Regions from separate parts of the Homo sapiens genome. Here regions 1 and 2 are each linked to region 3. The links come from fine-mapping of genetic effects on gene expression. A gene starts in region 3. Each other region holds a variant in brackets. All regions are shown on one strand. Distances are between the middles of the regions.

Region 1 (8,154 bases), 240 kb before region 3:
TCGAGATATTCAAAACTGAATCCTTCTTCCTACCCTCATGGAGATTGACATTTGTCATTTACGTAAATAACTGTGAACAAGTTGGAAAGTGATATGCCGTAAGAAAGACGGCAATGAAGTGCTTGAGATTCCAGAGGCAAAGAAAAGAAAAAGTTGAAATGAAAAGTGCTGTATAAATAGAACAGAGATCACGCTGTGTTAAGCTAACACAGGAAAAGAGTCCCTGATATAAATGACAATTTTGTCTACAAAGGACTGATTCTAAGAAGGGAAACTCAACCACAGTTTCAAAGTGTTCCTTTTGTACCACACTGGTTCCATTTGTATTTGTATGTAGGAAATAGCTCCCTGGGCTGGGCAAAAGAAATTTTGAACTGTTACTAGTCCCATGGATCATTATTATCTTAACCTGATTCTGTATCTCTTGCTACCTTTGGCTAGTTCAGGCTGTGTTTTCTGACTGTGCATGTAATAAACCAAGTCTCCAACTGACCACATTCCAAAATGTATAAATTAAGTGACCTTGGGCAGGTCAGCTTTAGTTTCCTTGTAATAAAAAATTGAGGATGTTGGACTGCCTGATCTAGCTCTAAATTTCTATAAAACACCCATGGAAATCAATGCCAGCAAACTCGAGATTTGACCTAAATACATATCACATACTTCTTTAATAGCTAATCATGCATTTTTGGTTAGCAATAACCAAAATCCTAAGAGATCTCTTAAGGATGTTTACATTAAAGCATATCATTTAAGAATTTTCCTGTGACTGTGGTTTTGCGTGCACGCATGTGTGTGCACGCGCGCGCACACACACACACACACACACACACACATCAGGCCAGCTTTGGCTGGACAGAGTCCAAATCCCACATGATATAATTTATCTGAGTTTAGGCTCTTTCACTCAACTCTGATATTGAAAAAAATTAATAATAAAGCTTTTTGCCTCTTGACCAGAAGGCCTGTGTTTTTCAGAGCAATATTGGAAATGAAAAATCACAGGATGTCAGCCACCTTGTTTCTCAGTTGGGATGATATCACCAGTAAACTTTTATGTGAAGCAATCAGCAAACATCTCCTGTTTCCCTCTAGCGGAAGTCTGGGATTCAGGATGGTGTTTCAGCTGCTGTGTTAGGACACATTCCAGAGTAGAATGCAGGTCAAATGCTGTGCAAGGTTTTATAGTTTCAATTCAAACCCAAACCTATATATAGTAACATCTTAAAAAAAAAAAGTAGGTAGGAATGTATTCATATGGAATTTTTTTTAACTTCAGAAATTTTGAAAAAATTAAAAAATATTTGTCTCTGTGGAGAGAGTTTAGTTATGATTATTAACTGGTTTCTATCTCCAGCACATGTAGCTGTCAATCAGTCCTCTTTATTATTAGAATTCTCCTGGAGCAGTAAAGGGACTTGTTAACTCCATTGTATGTGATTATAAGGCACTGTTCTAAGTATCCATAGTTGTTTAAATATGAACCCCCGGACACTACCATGATCCACAAGTGGTCCAGGTCCTACAAATGGTGCCGAGTGTTCAGAGGGATGAGTCGGCTGCCAGGCATGATGGAGGGAGAGACATGCGTGTCTATCTTGAAGTCTTTGACCAGGCAGTTTCTATTTTAATTAGATAAGGCAAACTAAAAATCTTTATCCAAAAACTCAATCAAGCTAACATCAGGAAGAAACTGACAGAGCAGCCCCTGGTTGGGGAGGCTCTGCCATTCTGTGGTCTCATCAAAGAAGCAAGACTTTGATTTGGGGGCCTCCAGCACTTTAGCCTCAAAGGAGAGCCCTCTCCCCACCCCTGACCCCAGCACTTACCTGAGCAAAGGCTAAAGAGCAGGAGGAGAGGCCAGGGCTCCATGGGCTACCGGAGCTTGTGTGGACCAGGGCAGAGTGGTGGCCTGTGCTTCTCACTGGCACTCTGGCTGGGTGCTTGTCTGCTGGAGGGTTTGGAAAGCGAGTCGGCTCACTAGAGCTATTGTTTTACACCACCTGTTTGTGGGAGCGACAGCTGGGCTGCCCTCAGCCCTGGAGCCCAGGGAGTTACTGGGACTGTACACCATTACAGATATGCCTCACTTTACACAATTGCTTACCCTTGACAAGCTGAGTATGAACTGCATTATATTTTAAATGCACCAGTAGTCAGATCTTAATGAAAAAAAAATGTATAGGAAGGAAGGAATTATTTTAAATGGTGAGCAAACTGCCTCTCTTTTGTGTAAACCAGAACCTCATCTCTGTGGGTTGACTTGATTAGGGTCATTTGGTCTGAGTAGATAGTCAGCTGTTTGTCCTAAACCACAAAAATCCACATTCTGCAAACATGGCTTCAGTTTCATTTCCTCTGCTTCAGTGTTAGGCTGAGGGTGCCGGGGGCTTTTCTGACTGCCTGGATTTCAGAAAAGTGTAGCTGGTGTTGAGTCTGCTGCTGGGAAGCCCCCACGTTGATTGGGTTTGGTTTTTAACAAAGACAGCTTCTTCCATAAAACTGGCTTTACTGGCCCCCAGAGTGGCTGTTCCAACCCCTGCCTCTGTATCAGGCAATACCTATCCCACACGAACCATTAGCTGGAGCAAATTGCCCACGTCCTATGCACTGTGATTCAAGCGAAGAGTAATTATTGGGAAAAAGTGTCCCACCGCATCAGCAGTCGTTCCGGGTTCCTGCCTCCTTCCATCCGTCCCTCTGCCTACTCTCACTCAGGGAAGCAAAGAGCAGAGTGGTTCAGCTTTTCAATTATCTTGCTTGAAAAACATCCTAAAAACCAGCAGTTAGTAATTTCTCAGTCTGAGAAGTATTGTTACCCTAGCTGTGCTTCTTTGCAGGGTGTGAGGTGAGTTCCCAGAAGGAGACAGTTACTTAAAGGTACCCTGCCTGTTCCTTCCAGGCCTCCTTCCCACATGGAACTAGGTGAGAAAGGTCCTCTCACCTCAAGCCCACAACAACATCCTGACAGATCCTCTCATTCCAGTGGATCCAAACAAATCATTAGAGAAGGGGCTTGGAGGGTAGAGGAGAGAGCTGCAAGCTCATACTATTTATATTTTTTGTTTAAACTGTGGGAGATCAGTTAACTGTTTGCTAAAAAAAAATTTGGTTCTCTCCCTTCCATGGAATAGCCCCGTGGCAGAAATACAACCCCCACCCTCTGACCAGCCCCTTCCATCTAAATGGAGCCATGGGACTGACCTCTGGCCAGTGGCATGAGTGGAAAAATGTTCTCAGACTCACAAACCTACCAGAGCTCAGCCCCGCCCTTCTAGTCTTCTGACCGGCTAGAATGGACATGGTCCCAAAGTTAACCTTAGAAACCATGTTCTGAAGGTGGTGTTGCTTTTGACATTCTGAATCCTTGAATGACTGCATGGAGGGGGACCCCCTATCCACCTGCTCACCACCCAGCACTATTTCAATGAAAACAAAACATGCATCGTGCTGAGCCATCAAAATCCTTGGGTTTATTTGTACAGCAGCTAGTGTTCCGTAATTAATAAAATATGTAATCCTTTGCACTAGTATCCTGAGGTTAAAAATAAATTCTAAAATATGTAGCACTGCAGCAGAAGGCAAGAAAATTGATACTGGAGGCTGAAAATATGAAGACCCATGTTATATGGTATCAAATCATTTCATAAACTGTTGTCCTCAATTACTTGGTGAACAATGTGTCTACTGAGCCTGTAGCTCCCAGAATAGAGGCTGGTAAACCCAAAGTTAGTGCACCATGGCTCTTTCTGGCTTTGTTTAGCAAGTCAGTACAAGGAAGAGCTGAGCTCAGGCAAAAATGTGCTGGTTCAAGAGCAGAAATGAAAAGAAATAGAATGAGTCCAGAAATGTGGAGTCTTCTGTTTTGAACTTCAAAAGAGTAAGTGAAAACATGGAATAAAGGCTTTGAGCAACCAAAGCCCGTTAAGACTTCTCTTTAAACAGGCAGTTTCATCACCACAGCAAAGATCACTTTAAGGGTGCTTTCTTCACAGCCAAATCTATTTTTTTTTTCAGATGGCTTCAAGATGGCTGCTATTAAGTTGAAGGAGAGAGGTATAGTGG[T/A]TAGGATGCAAAGAAATTAATCAGATTAAAGAATTGTGACCATGTGTGTATATAGGCACATGGGAATGATGGAAACAAATATTGCAGAAGCTTACTCAGTATTTGAAGGAATTATATTGCCAAAGAGTTCATTAACCCAGGCTACAAAAGTTTTGGTTGTTCAAGGCTTAAAGCAGTCCTTGAGTTCCCAAACACACACGGCCAGAAAGCAGGCTCCAAGATCTGCACAGTCTTCCAAAAAGGGTGCTTTCTCCATCCCCTCCTTCAATTGTGGCCGTGAGGGAAAGTGGGCAAGGAAGAACCTCCCCGGGGCATAGCCAGGAACCTCAAACAGCAACGGACAAGGGAGTTCCACCCACAGAGCAGAATCGGGTCGAATCGAGGAATCTGTTGAGACCTTCTCTGTGCCTACCCTGGCTTTCTGCTTACTGCCAATGCCTGCAACCCTGTAACCGAGGGATTTTTTTTTCTTTTTTTTTGGCCATGGGAACACATGAAACAAGCCTGAGATGCTAAAGTGTTACTGCCTCCAGAAACAGGCCTCAACCAATGTTGGAGGATAAATATCCCCGCCCCATCTCCCCTTGGACTGGGTAACCCCCAAGCGTGCCCTACACTCTATGTCTGTGGGAGTGAGTTCCTGTTGCCCATGATGGAAATGGCTCAATAACCCTCCCTTTATTGGCTTCCTCTCCTTCTCTGTCTCTTCTCCCCAATCTGCCACCTCTCAAGTCAACTCAATACAGGGTCAGGGGGACCTCAACTCAAGACAGAATTTCTCCCACTGCCTGGCATGGGGTCTTCACAGTGATATCATTGGAGGCTTTCCCCCTTTATTGCCACAGTTTAAACAAACTGTGATCTCCCACAATTTAAACAAAAAAATCTCTTCTAAAGGTGAACAGTTGAAACCATAGACTAAAAAAAATTACTAAAACTACTATTAATATTATCCTCAGGAGTAAACTGTTTTTTTCATTTAAAAGTTTATTATTCAAGTAATTTGAATTTATTTTAGAGAAATTAGAGAACAGATGAATGAAAAGACCTGCTATCCTTCTACCCAGAATATTTATTTTGATGTTTTAGTTTGTGTCTGTTCAGACCCTGTTTCCATGCATTCCATTCATTCATTCACTAAAAATTTTTTCACTGGGTTTTGCTATGTGCCAAGCAGTGTTCTAGGCATTTGGAATACATCAATAAACACAGCAGACAAAGATTCCTGGTTCTCAGGAAAAATGCATTCTAATTGGAGGAGATGGATGATTAAAAAAATATATATTTTTTACAATTTATTTTTATATATATTACATATGTTATATATTACATAAATAAGATATATATCCTTTTAACAATTTATTTTTATATCATATGTTATATAATATATGGTTATATATTATATATATACATATATGTTTGACTGTATATGTTTACATATATGTTTACATGTATTATATGTTTACATATATTATATATAAACATATATTATATATACATATACATATATTATAAATAAAATATATATAAATGTATATATAAATATATTTATATATTTATATATGAAATACATATATTATATATAAACATACATAATATATAAACATTATATATTATATATAATATACAAACATATACAATAAATTATATATGTAAACATATACAATAAATTATATATGTAAACATATACAATAAATTATACATGTAAACATATATAATATATAAATTGTAAAAAGATGTATATTTTTTATTTATATAAAATATATATTTTTATATATTTTTTCTTATATGTTATATAAATAAGATATATATAATTTATATAAGTAAATTGTTATAACTAATAAGTAAATTGTTTAATGTGTCATCAGGTAAAAATTGCTATAGGAAAAAGAAAAAGCAGAGCAGGATAAAAGGGGACCAGGACAGCTGGAAGGGGATTGCAATTTTAAACACAGCAGGTAGGGTGGGTTTCACTGAGGAGGTGGCGTTTGAAGGAGATGCAGACAGATATCTGTGCAGGAGCATTGCAGGCAGAGTGAGCAGCAACGCAGTCCCTGAGGGGAATGGGACTGGTGATCTCGGGCATAGCCAGGAAGCTGGCAGGCTGGAGCAGGGCGAGAGATGGGGAAACTGCTAGGAGATGAGGTCAGGGAGCAGCCCAGGGAAGGGGGACGCAACACGCATCCTCGACTTTCATTCTCTGTGAGATGAGGAGCCTCTGCAGCATTTTGAGCCGAAGGGTGACACCATCTGACATATGCTGTCAAAGGTCGACTCTGGCTGCTTTGGGGACACCAGGCTGTGGGGGTGTAAATTAGGAGCTACTACTGCAGTAATCCCTGAGGTAGATGGTGATGAATTGGACCAGAGTGGTTGCAGTGAAGGTGGTAAGAAGTCGTTAGATTTGGGAAATGTATTTTGACGTGAGGGTTAATGGGATTTCCTGAAGGATTTGATCTAGAATGCAAGAAAAAGGGAGGCATTTAAGATGATTTGCAGGGTTTTGGCTTGAGCATAAGGAAGGATTTAAATGCCAACAAGTGGATTAAGGAAGACCGTGGATGAGCAGGTTTAAAGGGGGGAAAATTCAAGGGTTCTGCCTGGGGTGTGATCAACTGGAGGTGTCCATTAGAAATGTGAGCAGGCAGTTGGATTTTTGAGTCAGTAGTTTGGGAAATCTAGAGTAGATGTTGTTTAAAGCCACAACAGGATAAGGTCAAAGGAATCAGTATGGGCAGAAAAGAGAAGAGAACTAACATTAAGTTGGAGGCTGGGCGTGGTGGCTCACGCCTGTAATCCCAGCACTTTGGGAGGCCAAGGTGGGTGGATCACCTGATGTCAGGAGTTCAAGACCAGCCTGGCCAGCATGGTAAAACCCCATCTCTACAAAAATACAGAAGTTAGCCAGGCATGATGGCGGGTACATATAATCCCAGCTACTTGGGAGGCTGAGGCGGGAGAATCACTTGAACCCGGGAGGTGGAGGTTGCAGTGAGCCAAGATCACACCATTTCACTCCAGCCTGGGCAACAGAGTGAGACACCATCTCAAAAACAAAAAGAAAAAAAAAAAAAACAGTTGGGAAATAACTTGGGAGGCTGAGGCAGGAGGATCACTTGAGGCCAGGAGTTTGAGCCCAACCTGGGCAACATAGTGAGACTCCATCTCTATGAAAAATAAAAAAAAAAATTAGCCAAGAATTGTGGTGTGTGCCATGGTCCCAGCTACTTGAGAGGCTGAGGTGGGAGGATCCCTTGAGCTCAAGAGGTTTAGGCTACGGTGAGCCATGATCATGCCACTGCACTCCAGGCTGAGCAACAGAGTGAGACTCTGTGTCATTAAAAAAAAAAAAAGTTGAGAAGAAGAGGAGGGTGCAGCGAAGAAGACTGAGAAGGAGGACACAGTGAGGCAGGAGGAGATCCACAAGAGGGTAGAGTTCTGGAAGCCTGGTAAAGGCCAGTGCAGGAGGTGGGGTGGGGGTGAGCCCATGAGATGAGGACAGAAATGGCTACGGGGCTTAGCACTATGGAGGCAGGCCACTGGCAACCTCACATGTGTGAAACCTGACTGAAATAGGTTTAAGGGGGCAGAATTGGAGGTTTTACTGAAAAAGGTAACAAAGAAATTAGGTGGGAGCTGGTGGGAGCAGAGTGAAAAGAATTTTGTTGTTGTTGTTTTGTGCCTTTTTCTGAATAGAAAAAAATAACAGCATACAGCATATTTGCATGATAATATTCAACAATAATAGAGATATAATGTTTTGATCCAATCAACAACATTACAAATGTTCCAGAGGGGGCTGGGCCCAGTGGCTCATGCCTATAATCCCAGTGCTTTGGGAGGCCAAGGGAGAAGGATCGCTTAAGGCCAGGAGTTGGAAGTTACAGTGAACTGTGATAGCTTAACCAGTGCATTCCAGCCTGAGCAACAGAGTGAGACTCGGTCTCAGAAAAACAATTTCAAATGGGATTTACTATATATGCTTTTCTTTTCTTTTTCTTTTTTTCTTAATTGAGGCAGGGTCTTGCTCTGTCGCCCAGGCTGGAGTGCAGTGGCATGATCTCAGCTCACTGCACCTCTGCCTCCCAG
Region 2 (8,185 bases), 220 kb before region 3:
GAGCGGGGCCCAGAGCAGAAATGCGGAGGTATCCTCTCTCTTTGCTCCCCTTCCACCATCTCCTTAGAAGTCAGGTTGGTCTCAGGCATAGAGGGGGTAGGTAGCCCCTTGCTCAGTATGATCCAAGCGTCCACACACCTGCAGGCCCCTGCAGAGCCCCAACAATCAGGCTCATGGCACGCAGCTTCTGGGGGGAGCCATGTTTTTAAGAGTACACCGTTGCTTTCAGAAAGACCCATTTAAAATGCAAACCGGTAGCTTGGGAACAGCAATATATGACAAGCTCAATCCCCTCACGGAGTTGACCATCATATTACTAAGGGATGGCTCACGCGACAGTTCTAAGGATGGGAGCTGGAGATATTTTGATGCAAGTGAGGACATGCAGTGGTGGGTGCCCTGGGTGTAGGGATCACATGAGGGGCTTGGATAAGAAGGGGCACCAGGAAGATTAGTAGGAATAAGGAATGAGGTTGGAGACAGGGATTGTGAGCACGAGGCCTCTTCACCCCCTTAGGCTTACACTTACAGAGCCTCGCCTCTCCCTAGCATAGGGAAGAAGTTGGAAAGCTTTGGATACTGCTGTCCAAAACCCAAAGACCTTTCACAAGAGCCTGGGTCTGGACAACATGTCTGGTCTCCTCCCGATCCCTGTGTTGATGGCGGAGAAGGTGGTGTGATGACAGAGGCCAATGCATTCTGTAGGGGAGAAGGGACTCCCCTAGGAGCTGGATCTAGGGACAGACTTAAGCAGCATTTTATTTTTTGTATCAATTTCATGCATGGTTTGTTTGTTTTAAAATCTGGTTCAAGGCATTGTAGCTATGAAGACTCAGTTATTACTGAGCCTACACTGGGTGGGAGGATGGGGAGGCCTGCGGGGCTGCTGTTGCCCTTTTGAGTAGTTCCATTCTGGTGCCCAGAGGCTGGCATCACAGGGAGTCCTTGGCCCTTGGCCACTGAACAGAATAAAGACTGAAAAAGGGACCATGGAGGTAGGTGACAGAGGTGCATTGCTAAATATTACATTGTATTTTGTTTGAGTCTGTTTGGGCTGCCATAAAGTAATACAGGCTGGATGGATCACACAACAGATACTTATTTTCTCACAGTTTTGGAGGCTGGAAGTCTAAGATCAGAGTGCCAACAGGGTTGGTTTCTGGTGAGGGCTCTCTTCCTTACTTGCAGACGGCCACCTTCTCACTGTGTCCTCACATGACCTTTTCTCTGTACACACATGGAGAGAGAGAGAGAGAGATCTCTGGTGTCTCTTCCTCCTCTTATAAGGATATCAGCCCTACTGGATTAGGGGCCTTATGACCTCATTTAACCTTAATTACTTCTTTAAAGGCCTTGTCTCCAAATACAGTCACATTGAAGATTAGGGCTTTGACACGTGAATTATGGGGTGATATCATTCAGTCCATAACATACCTATATACATACGTATGCATATATGTTAACAGTAATCTTCTGGTGGTGGAATATGAGTGCATTTTTTAGTTTGTGTTCTATGATCTCCAGGTTTCTGCATTAAGAATATCTTACTCCTGTACTTACAGGAAGAAAGCAACAGGTAATAGTTTCTAAAGAGAAGGAACACATTTTCAGTTCAAAATAACATGTACTGTAGGATTATTTCTAGAATTACATCTATAACTTGTGTGCCCATCTACGGACTCACCTGCCTACCCATCTATCTGTCCATCTGTCCATCCTTCCACCCATCCATCCATTCTTCAGTTCTTCCTTCCATTCTTTTTTCCATCTGTGTATTTGCATTGAGAGATATATGGAATGAAAATGAACAAAATGTTTGTGATGGTTGTTTCCGTATGGTGGAGTTTTAAGTGATTTTGTATTCTTCGTACTTATCTCTTCTGCTTGAAATTTGTAATAAGGAGGTACGTAAATTTTTTCTCAATTCACAACATTGAACTTTTTATTTGCTTACACACATGATCCGAATCACTTGATTCTGGAACAGTAGTTGGTCTAACACAGCATCTCTGCTCTATTCATAGGGTGGGTTCTAATCACCAAGCCTAACTGAGCGTTCCTAGCTGGCAAGACTGAGAGCAACTCTGACCCCACAGCCTTGGTCGTGCTGAGGTTGCCAAGCTCAGCGTGTAAAGTGGAGGTGTAGCTCAGTGGGGGAGAAGAGAGGGAGTTTGCAGGCTACACCTGGGCTCCATTTAAACCCACAGCCGGGCATCTCGAGCCTTTGATGTATGCTGTGCAACTGGCTGGCGGGTCTGTAGCTGGCGAGGCTCTGCCATTTACAACTCCAGGGTGACTGCTAAGTGCCCTCAGGGCCTTCCTGCCCAGCTGCAATTGTCATCTCTGTTCCAGTCTCCCCTGACTCCCACTATTCTGAAACTGGGGCAGGAGATCCTGTGGAAAGATCTCCAAGGGCCTCTGAGCTTAGAGATCTCCAAGGTCAAGGATGTGGCTGTTGAACATTTTTAGCTCCAGTGAAATAGATAAGCAGCCTTCTGTGTTCATGGATTTGCAGAGCATTTTCTGAGTGTTGGAGAGCAAAGGAGTAGTAGGCACTTTCTCACCTAGGGTGGGAGTGAGAATGACACAACAGTTTAGGAAAACAGGCTAGCATTCGTTATTTAGGAGAGGCGAAGATACATTGGCACCATGACCTAGCAACCCTGCTCCTAGGCACATGCTTTGCATCTGGAGATGTATACGGATGATCATGAGAGTGTTTTTTCTAATAGCCCCATGCTGGAAGCAACCCAATGCCCATCAACAGTTATAGATGGCCTGCATAAATTGAGCTATATTTGTACAGTGGAATGCTATCCATCTGTAAAGATGAACTGATTACAGCTAGGGCAACAACATGGTCATAACCCACAAACATAAAGTCGAGTGAACAAAGAAAATCGAAAAAGAATATATACAGCATTATATTGTTCATGTGAAGTTCAGAAACAAAGCCATATTTTTTTTAGGGATGCATACAAAAGTAGCAAAAATATGGAAAAAAATTTATAAAACACAAGATACGGATACCCAGGGGAAGGAAAGGAATCAGAATCAGCCAGACTTTCTTTCCCAGGGTGGACAGGGACTTCTGGGGTGCCTGGCAATGTTTTTCTTCTTAACCTGGGTGGTGGTGACAAAGATGTTTGCTTTATAAATTATTCATTAAACTCTTCAGTTACATGTCTTTCTTTGAATATTTTATATTCACTATGAGAATATGCAAAAGAGAAAAGCAAAATCCAGTCTCCATGTCTAGAAATGGCTGCTTCCTTTACCCCAGGCTTCCTTACTTCTGGGACCTCCAAGCAGCATTTGTCCAAGTCTATGACCAGGGTCGTGAGTCAGTGTGCTCTTACTTTCCAAGTTCTATGATGAGCTTAGCCTTATATCTGGGACTGTTGTATGTGTGGAAGTGGGAGGGGTGGGAATATGCTGCCCCAAGAAGACAAAACATTAGGAATAACAGTGAAAACACGAGACAACGCTGTAGAGACTTCCAGTGTGGTGGAAGTTTGGAGAATGAGTCCAGGGAAGGAACACTCCATTGGTCCTGAGGATGGACTGGGGGAGACAGAAGCTGGGAGTGGGGAGGGTGAGAGAGGATGTTGTGATGAAGGTCCCTGTGAATGACCGGTGGAAGCCAAGTATTGCTGGATCCACAGGAGGGTTTGGAAAAGCAGGAGAATGTTTGCTTCACCCCACCTTGTTGCCAGTTTTTGTCCACCAATCAATCAATTATCAATTCAGTGATGCCCCCAGATATGTTATATCTAACAGTCAATAGGAGAATCTTGAACAAAGAAGACATACAGAAACCTTCAGAGAAAAATAGAAAGTGAATAAGAGAATTAAAAAATAGATGCCATTGTTCTCATTGCCAAACTCTATTGGAAAACAATCCTCAGCTGCTCCAGGAAACGCATTAATCAGAAGTCTCCCGGGCTTGCTGTGGAAAATAGTTTGGTAGTTCCTTACAAAGTGAATCATAGAATTACCTTACAATCCAGCGATTCTACTTCGGTTATATATCCAAGAGAATTGAAAGCAGGGACTCAAACAGACCCTTGTGCACCATAGCCTTATTCACCATAGCCAGAGGTGGAAAAACCCAAGTGCCCATCCACAGATGAATG[G/C]ATAAACAAAATGCAGCACATCTATATAATGGAATATGATTCAGCCTTAAAAAGAATGAAGCATTGAGACTGCTACAACATGGATGCACCTTGAACCCGTGCCAAGGGAAATAAGCCAGTCGCCAAGGGACAATATTATAGAATTATTCCATTTCTATCAGGTACCTAGAATAAGCAAATTCACAGAGACTGAAAATAGAACAGTAGTTAGCGGGGGCTAGGAAAAGAAGGGCATAGTTATTGTGTGTGTGTCGTTGGTTTGCTTCTTTGAGACAGAATCTCACTCTATTACCCAGACTGCAGTGCAGTGGCACAATCTCTGCTCACTGCGGTCTTGACCTCCTGGGCTAGGGTGATTCTCCCACTTCAGCCTCCCGAATAGCTGGGACTACAGGCATGCACCACCATACCTGGCTAATCTTTGTAATTTTTGTAAAGACTGGGTTTTGCCAAGCTTCCCAGGCTGGTCTTGAACTCCTGAGCTCAAGCGGTGATCTGCCTGGCTCAGCCTCCCAAAGTGCTGGGTCTGCAGGTAGCTATCATGCCCCTTGAGAGTTTTTTTTTTTTTTTTTGAGACAGAGTCTTGCTCTGTCACTTATCCTGGAGGGCAGTGGCACGATCTCAGCTCACTGCGACCTCCGCCCCCCGGGTTCAAGCAATTCTCCTGCCTCAGCCTGAGTAGCTGGGATTACAGGCGTGTGTGGCCACCCCCAGCTAATTTTTGTATTTTTAGTAGAGACGGGTTTTACCATGTTGGCCATGGCTGGTCTTGAACTCCTGACTTCAAGTAATCCACCCGCCTCATCCTCCCAAACTGCTGGGATTAGGGGCATGAGCCACCACGCCCAGCTGAGAGTTATTGTTTCACAGGTACAGTTTCTATTTGTCATGATGATAAAGTTCTGTAGATGGATGGCACAACACTGTAAATATAATTAATACCACTGAATTGTACATTTAAAAATGGCTACAATGGTAATTTTATGTATATTTTACCATATTCCAAAAAGAAGTCCACAGAAGCTCAAAAAATTGTTCCTGTGTGTTGAGATAGAGGAGAGAGGCCTGGGCTGTGGAATCATTTACTGAATACCAAGAAAGAAAACAAGGTAAACTTTCCTTGTTGAAGGTTGAAGAAGAAAAAAATGCTTTCTTTGGCCTATCCCTGGAGCTTCTGCTACTGTTGGGCCAGCCTCTGGCAGCAGCACAGAGATAGATGTTAAACAGCGCGGGTAGACCTGGGTGCTTTCAGAAAAGTGGCCCCTGCCCCTTCTTCCTATCCTCATCCCTCAACAAAGGCTGAACCCTGGTTACCCTCCAAAAGCCTGTTTTCTGGGAAATTGCCTTTTAGAATTTTTCTTTAAATGTATGAATCCACCCTGAATGCTATTTGAAAAAGAAAAGGAATTTAAAGATGTTGAAGTATGCTTACATATACACAATGGAAAAATTTGCTTCTCAAACAGCCTGAGTAGAAAACCTCGCATCCCCATGGCAACCAGATTCCACTGTGACCACACATCAAATGGGTGGGTGACCTGGCAATGTAGGCCTGGGCTCTTCAGCCCCTCCCTGCGAACATATGGGGCCCAGATGTACCACCCACTGCAGTAGGGTGCTTGAAGCTCCAGGATGGCTGGCTGAGGGCTCTGTTCTAGTCACTAAGGGATATTCCTGGAGACCCATCTAACCTGGGACAGGGAATCAGTTCTTCCTGAAAATCATAGAGGGGCAGGAGACTCTCCCTCAAGCCATTGCCCCGGGGAAATGCAAGACCCCTGTGGCTACTCAGGGGCTTGGATTACTAGGATGAGTGGTTGGGATTTAAAACAATTGTGTGCTGCTGACCAGAAAACCAGGCCCTTGGTAACACAAGAACTGCAAGTCCTGATCAGTTAAAAACCTAAAGAATAATCAGATCCTTAATGCTTCATTTCCTTGAACAGACATCTGACCCTTTTATAGAGTTTGTGTCATCTTCCCCTTTGATCATCTTCCCCTTTGATCATTCAGAACAAGTACTTCTTTCCAAACTACGGTCTCAGTCCCATTTTCAAATAGTATTTTGGAATGGCTAGCCTATGATAACCCCACCTCCCTTCCTGTTGAGCTTCCTAATGATACCGAAGGGAAGAGCGTGGTCCCTTTAAGTGATACGGAAGCGGGGGCGGGGGGGGGGGGGGAGGGAAGGGCGTGGCCCCTGGCTAGGGCTCCACCCCTACGAGCCTAGATGAGGACAGGCATTTTTGTTTTCCTGCTCAAATGCTGCATTTCCCAAGACCACCCTGGCCTGCCACGCCCCCATCCTGTGCCTATAAAAATCCTGAGGCCCTAGCAGGCAGACACACAGATGGCAGGACGTGGAGAGGAGCACAATGGCGGAGGAACTAGGCCACTGACCGGCAGAAGCAGAATGATGCTGTGGCAGTCGGATGAGAGCCCAGGCCGCTGAGCTGTCGACTCCAGGGGGGAAGCCTTCCCACTCCATCACCTTCTGACTTCCCCCATCTGCTGAGAGCTGCCTTTACTCAAAATCTTGCACTCATTCTCCAAGCCCAGGTGTGATCCGATTCTTCAGTTACAGCAAAGCAAGCACCCAGGATACAGAAAGCCCCCTGTTGTTGCAACAAGGCAGAGGGTCTAATTGAGCTGGTTAATACAAGCTGCCTATAGACGACAAAACTAAAAGAGCGCAGGGTAGCACACGCCCACTGGGGCTTCAGGAGCTGTAAACATCCACCCCTCGACACTGCCGTGGGGTTGGAGCCCGGTAGCCTTCGCGTCTGTATGCTCCCTAGAGGCCTGAGTAATGGGGCACTGAAGAAGCAAGCCGGTCCCCGTGTCGCACGCCCTGCAAGGGCGACAAGTGAACTTTTCCCATTTCACTAAGGTCTTTCTTTTACGAAATTGATGTATAATAGTTGTACATGTATATGGGGGTACGTATAATATCTTGATACCTGTATACAATTTGTAATTATCAAGTCAGCTGATTGGGAAATCTATCACTTCAAACATTTTTGAGTTGGGAGAGTCACAATTCTTCTAGCTATTTTGACATAGACAATAAATGATTAACTATAACTTCCCTGCTATACTATCGAATACTACAACTTACTCCTTCTATCTAACAGTATTTTTGTCCCCATTAACCAACGTCTCGTCATCCTCCATCCCTTCCCAGCCTCTGGTAACCACCATTCTCTCTCTATTTCTATGAGATTCACGGTTTTTTTTAGCTCCCACACATGAGTAACATGTTATTTTACTTAACATAATGTCCTCCAGTTTCATCCATGTTGCTGCAAATGACAGGAGTTTTTTATTTTTATTTTTATTTTTTTTTTTTTGAGACAGAGTCTCGCTCTGTCGCCCAGGCTGGAGTGCAGTGACGCGATCTCGGCTCACTGCAAGCTCCGCCTCCCGGGTTCACGCCATTCTCCTGCCTCAGCCTCCCGAGTGGCTGGGACTACAGGCGCCCACCACCACGCCCGGCTAATTTTTTGTATTTTTAGTAGAGACCGGGTTTCACTGTGTTAGCCAGGATGCCCTCGATCTCCTGACATCTTGATCCGCCCGCCTCCGCCTCCCAAAGTGCTGGGATTACAGGCGTGAGCCACCACGCCTGGCCCGGATTTCATTCTTATGGCTGAATAATATTCTATTTTGGATACACCACATTTTATTTATCCATTCATCTGTTGATGGACACTTAGGTTGATTCGCTGTCTTAGCTATTGTGAGTAGTGCTGTGATAAACATGCAAGTGTCTTTGGCATACTAATTTCATTTCCTTTGGATGTATATCCAGCGGTGGGATTGCTGGATCATACTGTAGTTCTAGTTTAGGTTCTTGAGGAATCTCCGTACTGGTTTCCATAATGGTAATACTACTTTACATTTTCACCAACAGTGTGCGAGTGTTCCCCTCTCTATCCTTGCCAGCATTTGTTATTTTTTGTCCTTTTGTCTACCACCATACCATGCTGAACACGGGGATCCCATCTGAGGTCTTTCCTGTGGGAGTGGCCGGAAGGCCATCATCCTTG
Region 3 (8,185 bases):
GAATAAAGTGAGATAATGAAAAGGTTTCCATGGCAGAAGGGTCTGAGGAAAGATGGTACAAAATTATAGCAAAATCATAAGCATTATTAGAAGTGATCTATGGTAGTAAGATGGTGACTAAATGGTAACAAGAATAAGGGGCAAGGAGGGTGAGCAGCAACGCCAGAGGTGACTCTACCCAGATAGAGGACCATTATTCAAGGTTCAGCCAGCCCAGCCGACGGTAACTGAGTTCCCAATCGCATCAGTTGGTCTGGGCTATAAACCACAGCCCCATTAAGCTATAAATGACAGAGATTCCTGCCAAGGCAAGAGCTGGCAGAATGCTTATTCACCCAGCTCTGCCAACTAAGGCTCTATTGGTGTGGCCAATCAGGACATTTTGTCAGGTACACCAGCCACAAATTCCCATATTCAAGGATCTGAGACTTTCCTTTTATCCCAGTAATTACTAGAAAACATGTGCTCTCTACTAAGGAAGTTCTCACAAAGCCTATACGGAATTAGTTAATAGTTAAGTGCCACTCACTATACGGAATTAGGTAATTAGTGAATTAGGTGCATTCGCTATAGTTCTAGAAAAGACTCTGAAGTGCCACTAGAGGACCATGTCTCTTGTACGCTGTGACAGATGTTTGCTGAAAAAATGAGCAAGGTGAGCGAGCAGAGTCTGTAATACATTTGGATAATTTTTGAAATTGGGGGATTTAAAAACTATATCGAAGCTGATAATGAGATGTGAGTTCATTTGAAAGGAGAAGAAAAACGGGTGCAAATTCTTAAGCTTTCAAAAATGCACATTTTCAATTCCCAAATGAGACTGTAAAATCTTTCAAGATTGGGGTCTGGTTCTTCTATCCCAAAATAAAACTAATATGCATTAAAAATATGTTAAGCAGCAAAGGTGATTAACAGTGAGGATGAGAGATAAAACAGTCTTAACTATTCAGCTTAATTTAACAAGTATTCGAGTTCCTATAATATACTTAACAGGTGAAAAAAATTAAATGTATGCAAATACAAAATCAGGTAATGTTAGAGGCTCCACTTTTTAAAACTAAGTCACCAACTCCCTATAAAAAGAACATTTCTTAAATTTATAAAAAGCCTGAATGGAAAGAAAATGTAAAACACAAAGCAAATAACTAGTCTAGACTCTACTGCTGGACTGCACTAACTAATCAACCAAGATACAAAAGATAGGGCCCTGGCAGTCGTTACTCTGGGGAGCCTCAGGTATAAACTCTGCTGAGCTCTGACAAATCCTGTTGATCTGGTTAGGTCCCTGCCTCTAACTCTTTTCACTACCATCTCACAGAACTTTATTGCTCCATTGCTCTTCTGTTCTAAGTTGGTCATTAAGAGTAAATATGAAGGGACATGAGGCACTTCTGACTAAGACCAACTAGTTAAAGGTAGTAAAATCTAAAATAAAATCCATTTCTTCTAACCCTTAGGTACATCTCTCAACATACACAAAAAGCTATTTTGTATTGGGCGAGTTTGACCCAATCTCCTAGCATTTATCTTGAATACAACAGTTCTCAAACTTGAGTGAGCATAAGAATCACAAAGGGAGTCACTTTAAAATCCCCTTCCCCCATGTCTTTGGGCAAAAGAATCTACATTTTTAATAGACATCCCAGATGACTGATGAGTGGTGTACAACCACTTTTAAAAACAGCTGCTGCTCTATCACTACTTAACAAATAGCCTCTGCACTCAAGAGTGCTTTGTTTTATAACACAGAAACGTTCACACTGTAACAAACTGGATTTTGGGAAGTGAATTCTATTTTCCCATAAGTAGACTTTAAAATTTTAAAGATACATTATTCATTTTGAAGGCTGGGAGTGATTTCTTATACTTTCTTCTATAGGCCACATTCCATGCTTTTCCCTTCCTCATCTTCACCACAGTGGTTAAAGATTTAGAATTTAGAAATCCTTTTAAAAGAGCATTTTTCACCCCAATTTATCTTTTTTATTCGTCAGGAATGCGAGTATTTGAAAAGTTGACTTGTAAACCTTACTTCTGAAACCACACCTTGAAAATGCCAAATATCTCTTTAGGAAAGAAAATGTTTGTACCAAAAAGGTCCACATTTAAGGAAAATGCTGCTATTAAATAATGCTTAGATACAAGGTACTGAGAAACAGCGAGAATTTTATTATTTTTCAGAAAAAGAAGACACTTTTTTAAAGTACCTATGGAGGATCATCACCAAGTAAGAAATGGCACTTCTAGTAATGCACTTGGGCACAGTAAACACAGTCCCAGACTGAAGCCTGGTGAAGTGAATTCTAGGCTCAGTTTTGCCACAAAAGAGCCATGTGACTTTGGGAAACAACCTCTCTGGGTCTAAGTTTAATTTATAAAATAAGATAGTTAAATAAAAGTAACACTTTGATTCTAGCAGCTTAATTCACTGGGAAGTATTTACCTCAAAAAGCATTTGAGGTATGTAACACCTCTAACGTGTTTGATCAAATGACATAATTAAAACTGAACTGGAAACTTGATATTGTGAATAACTTACTTAGGCTGTTCTCGTAGCTATCAATTACATATCATTGTACTTTGCTTCTTCAAAAAAGCTGAATACTTTGAACGTCTAATGTTCACATATTGAGTTTTCTTAAAGTCAGGTACGTATGTACCATAGTCGTTTTGTAAAAGGAAAGAATGTATCTTTTCAGTCCTTTTTCCCAACCCATTGTCATTGCAGACTGAGAAAAAAACAGCTTGAAGTCTTAACCACCAAAAGCAACAGTGCTGCAGTAATTACACCACAAAAATAACATTTCATTCTTAATGAATACTCAGTCTCCTGAGATTACAGTTATCTTCTGGTAACCAACTTTATTCTGTCTGCTCTCATTCGTTAGTGCAAACATTTTCAATTTTAACCCATATTCAGTTCACAAATCATACTTATTTCCAACGGAATATACTGAGTCCAAAAAAAAAATTCCCCAATAGTCCAACAGGAAGCAACACATGCATTTGGCAATTCCAAGGAGGCTGGGGACTCACAGATACCTCGTTCAAAATAAATAAACTTTCCAAGGATTTATTTACCGACGGGAAAGGCAGGTTTGAAAACAACCAGTTAACTTCACTCCCAAGTTGGCATCTTAGAGAATCTTTGTGCGTTTGCAAAACACCCAGGACCTCTGAGCCTCCCAGCCGAGAATTGGCCAGGGGAGCACACGCCCATCGGCCCTGCCGGGAGAGGAAACAATGGGAGAGGCGCGAGGGAGCAAGCCGGCGCCCCGGGCGCCCCAACTCTGCGGCCCCGGCCCGCCCCGACCCCACGCGCCGCGCCCCCTCCCCGGGCGCCCAGGCCCCCCAGGCCCCCGCCCCCGAGCCCCGGGACGCGGCCCACCTGCGGCGGCGCGGGGAGACGGCTGCACTTACCAAACAGGGTCAGGGCCATTGTAAAGGCGCTCGCCGCCGCCCGCGAGTCCAGGCGCTCCTCCCAGGCGGGCTAGGGATCACCTCATCAGCCCGCCGCACCCACACCTCGGAGAGAGTGGGGTGCCCGATGGGGCGTGCTGGGGGCGCCGGCGCCCGGGGAGGCTGCAGGCCGGGACGCGGGGGACCGCTGCAAGAAAAAGTTATTCACGCGTTATTGTCGGGCGCACCGGGCCCAGGGAGCCCCGCTAGCTCTCCGCGAGCCGGCACTTGTCGCTGCCATCAGGCGCGGAGCGTGCGCGCGGGAGGAGGTACCTGCGAGGCAGGAGGCTTGGCCGCGGCGCAGTGGCTGGCGGAGAGGCGGCGCCGCACTGGCGGCGGCGGCGGCGGCGACGGGGAGAGCAGCAGCAGCCTCGCACAGCCCCCGGCGGGGCGCGCTCACTCCGCATCCCGCGGCCTCGCAGACGCCATCTTGCGATAGCGTCTCCCACGAGCTCGGCCGCGCCGCTGCCTCCCGCCTCTCCCTCGGGCTTCCCGGTCGAGTGCGTTCCCATGGCAACGGGCGCGCGCGGGGGTAAGAGGGTGCGCCCTCATTCCCGCGGCTGCGAGGAGCCACCAGCGCCCCCCTGGAGGCGGCCGCCCGGAGCGGGATGGAGCGGGGCCGGTGTGCGTTTTAGCTGAAAGCCCAGGTTTTTTCTTGAATGGAATTTGAGGAGGCGCAGAGAGGAGAAAAACGCTGTTACTCGAAAGAGGAAGAGTCACAGGAGGATGCTGAGTGAACGCAGCGCCCAGGCAGGGTCATCTGGGGACCTGGTGCGTGTGAGAACATATTTCTTCTCCTGGCGCCCTCCAGGCTCACTGTGGCTGGAGCCGGTGACCTGAAGCTGCAGGGCTCTGGTAGGAACAGAGGCACTGAAAGCTGCATTCCTCTCCGTTTGGACTTAGGAGCTGCTAGTAGTTCTGATGAAATTGACACACATTAGGAAAAGGAGTCGCTTAAAAAGCATCTGAGATTACCTAAGATAATTTGTTAAAAGACCAATGCTTACACCTGATTTTCTTCCCTTTACATTATACCTCTTTGATATTGTCTCAAGGAAAAAAAAATCAGCATGTGTCACTGACTGGCACTTATTTGCCACAAAAGATTGTTCCCCTGAGCTTCTTGTATTTATCTGATAATCACTGGCAACGTCCTCCTTTCTGTGATGTTGTCTCCTCACCTCTGTCTCTGCCATGAGGAGCCATACAACGCCTTGAGATTGTCAGCCAAAAGATGTTCTTGAAAAGCTGGGTTATATGTTTTTCGTCGTTGTCGTTTAATGTATTCAAAAAGTCATTCTTCTCTAGTTGCTATATGTGTTCCCTGTTTAAGAAATTCCTTCTTTTTTCTTGTTTCTCTGCTTAGGGATTTGATACTATTTTGGTATCTGATCATGTAGATCTTCTCTTTGGTTCTCCTTTCTTTCTACAGGCGTCTTTCCTCTTAGTTCCTCAGGTTCCCTAGTGTCTTCTCTCCCATTTTCAAATAATTCTTTAAGAATATTATAGAAATATCTTGTATTTAATGTATCTTAGAGATCGAATCCTGATAAAGTGGGAGATTACTACAGTACTTCCAATGGAACCACAGTTAATTCACCATCATTATTTCAAAGCAGACTTAAGCATCAGAAGAAAAGCAGGTTGGAAGGAGGAGCCAAGCCTTTTGTTTCAAGTCAGTTAACTCAGGAAGAAAGAAATATTAAAATGATTCAACATGAATGGGCAAGTGTTTAAGATGCTATATGTTTGGAATTTTGTGATGTAAAATGGCTCTCTTTAGCCACTAATCAAAATACATCTTTAAAATCCCCAGAATTTAAAATCTTTCATGAAAATGGACTCTTGATTTTGAACAACCTTTCTGCTCATAAAAAATTACAAACACACAGCTCATGAAAATAAATGAGAAACTCAAGAAAGCTTTGTGGGATAGATTTTATAACCATATAAAGATTGCTGCTAATCTGCTCTGCAGCCAAATAAATCAGAAACCGAAGACTCCATTTACTGTTTCAACTAGTGGTCTTCAACATTTTTGGACCAAATTTCCTTTTGAGGCTCTAATGAAAATACTGTCCCTCCTCTTAGAAAAGTGCTTGCATACATACACACATTCACCGGAAATTTTTCACATAATTTCAAGGGGATTATGGGCTATTCAGGGACCTTAGGTGAGCCCCTGGAAGTGTTTTTTGTAATCTCAGAAAGTTTTTGCCTTTATAATTTAAAGGAAAATATTTTCCTTCAGAATAGAACCATTGAATTTTGAATAGGAAAAGACCAAAACTCCCATGATTTATAGGTAAAAAAATTGAGTTCCCCGTAAAAAGATTTTCCCAAATGTGTTCACCTATTTAGTAGCAGAACCAATGGGAAAATCTTAGATTTCTGGTGTTCTCACCGACCACCTTCCCTACCCACATCCCGCATCAATTTAGAGGTTGCATGGTTTGAATTTCAAAAGAAAAATCTGTTTAGTATTAGAAGCAAAATAACGAGAGTATTTTGTCCTTAGCCATTCTGCATAGAGTTTGGGAAGTTGCATTTTGTCTCAAAGAGTTTTTATTAACATGCCCTTCTACTCAGAACTATGTGTCCCATCATGCTAAAAGAGAAACAATGCCTTTCTCTCCTCTTTGTTAAGCTCTGTTAGAGCATCAAGGTTTTGGTGCTGCAGCTCAGCTTGCTAGTAGCTCTCTCCATCCCTTGAGGGGTTGTCCTGGGAGTGAGACAGAGAGAAAGGAGCTGCCCTGCACTCAGATTTACCCTCCCATCATACAGCCGGCCTTTGGTTACTAGACCAGCTTTCCACTCACTAGTTTGGCCAAATACAACTGAATCCTAGTGAAATACCCTGCTTAAACTCAAGTGAAGATCCTTTTCCTCTCCCCTTTCTACTCGCACACCCACGTACACACACACACACACAGCTGTTTTTAAGGTACAATTTGGAACAAAACAGTGTGAATGTTGCTATGTTTCCCTTTAAAGCATCCTGCTTTCCACGAGCCATTCCTTTCAACTGACTTCCAAATGGTTTGATGCTCTAACAAAATGCTCTCTATACTTGATCAAAGTGCCTGTCTTGGAAATAGTATTGGCTTTTAAAATAGCGTATTTTTTTCAATGAGCTATTCCTATTCTATTGCATGTGCTTCTTTTCTCACTTAGCTGAAAATAAAGCCACAGCCTTTCAGCTACAGAGTCAATGCAAGGAAGGGCGTTAACTGCTTGGAGGTGATTATTACGGGTGGTGACTTAGATTGTTTATAAAAGAAGGGCAAAGAATGAATTGACTTCTCAAAATATTTATGTTTTCATTCAATGATTTCATTTTGTGCTTAACATGCAAGTGCTTAGAAGAGCCAGATTTGTTTATTCGTTACTAACTAGCTGTCAGATTTTTAGACAAATGTTTTACTGTTTCTAGTTCTTATCTTCCTCCTTTGTAAAATGAAAGGATGGTACTAAGGTATCTCTAATGTCCCTTTTAGGTTTATCTGTCATTGTGTGATATTTTAAAATCTTTAAATTAACTGGTTTATGGATAAAACAGAGGACATTTTTATTTGAATCTTCAATATATTTAAAGTGCTGTTATATCTAAAGTTCATAAATACCTAATGTAATAAAGAAGTCATATTTTGTCAAACCAGTGGTACTGCTATTTCTTCTGCAATGTGTTGTACTAATAATGTTATATTAATCATGTAGAAAGCAACCTTTTTCTGGTTTAACAGGATTAAAATTAAAAGTGTGCACTGAACAACCCATTTCAAATTTACTAAAACAATTTCTCATTTTTATTTAAGTTTTGTTGACTAAACAGAACCTAGACAACCCTTTAAAATGGTTTTCCTACATTTTAAACTAATGACTTATCACAAGTGTTTTGAATTTCTTTTTGTTACCCATTTAGCTTCATTCCCATTGGTAAACATTGATTTGTTCCTCAGTTTTCAATGAAGCAGAAATTAATGAGGCGGTTTCTGCCTCACAATAACAAGTTAAAATTATAGTACTTTGTCATGTCAACACAGCTTTAAACACTAGGAATACCAGTGCTATTAGCACAGTTCCCAAAATAGTGCAGAAGTTTGCTAGTGAAGAGAAAAATGTTACACAGTATACTTCTGCTAAAGTTAAAATTAAGAAAGTTAAAATTATTTAAATATTCACAATATGTGACATTCTCTCTATCCCATATTTATGTTACTAGTTACAGTGTTTGTTTCCACTGTGTGAATTTGTTTAAAGTGGATTTGTTTTTGTTTTGAGACAGGGTCTCACTCTGTCACCCAGGCTGGAATGCAGTGGCACAATCTCAGCTCCCTGCAGCCTTGAGTTCGTGGGCTCTAGCAATCCTCCTACCCCAGCCTCTGGAGTAGCTGGAACCACAGGTGCATGCCACCACACTCGGCTAATTTTTGTATTTTTAGTAGAGACAGGGTTTGCCATGTTGCCCAGGCTGGTCTGGAACTCCTGAGCTCAAGCAATCCACTCCTCTCAGCCTCCCCAAAGTGCTGTGATTGCAGGCATGAGCCACTGTATCCAGCTATTTGGTCTGTTTGGTTTTTTGTTTTTTTTTTTTTAGACGGAGTTTCACTGTGTCACCCAGGCTGGAGTGCAGTAATCTCAGAGCTGACTGCAATCTCTGCCTCCCAGGTTCAAGTGATTCTCCTGCCTCAGCCTCCTGAGTAGCTGGGATTACAGGCATGAGCCA

The links.
Region 1: its variant is fine-mapped to the expression of CHN1 in tibial artery (GTEx, PIP 0.91).
Region 2: its variant is fine-mapped to the expression of CHN1 in whole blood (TOPMed, PIP above 0.99).

What each region holds. Positions count from the first base shown.
Region 1 is chr2:174,762,523-174,770,676 of GRCh38, forward strand. CHRNA1 (cholinergic receptor nicotinic alpha 1 subunit) reads right to left here and starts at 1,950. Exons shown (of 9, transcript NM_000079.4): 1 at 1,830-1,950. The coding sequence starts at 1,872. RefSeq lists an enhancer at 1,951-2,450. The variant T/A (reference allele first, on the strand shown) is at 4,066.
Region 2 is chr2:174,782,306-174,790,490 of GRCh38, forward strand. It overlaps LOC124907908 (a long non-coding RNA gene), which reads right to left and starts at 5,645. Exons shown (of 2, transcript XR_007087311.1): 1 at 5,569-5,645; 2 at 1,914-2,564. RefSeq lists enhancers at 1-349, 5,008-5,823, 6,236-6,530. The variant G/C (reference allele first, on the strand shown) is at 4,137.
Region 3 is chr2:175,001,474-175,009,658 of GRCh38, forward strand. It overlaps CHN1 (chimerin 1), which reads right to left and starts at 3,908. Exons shown (of 13, transcript NM_001822.7): 1 at 3,421-3,908. The coding sequence starts at 3,439. RefSeq lists an enhancer at 3,078-3,624 and a silencer at 3,609-3,668.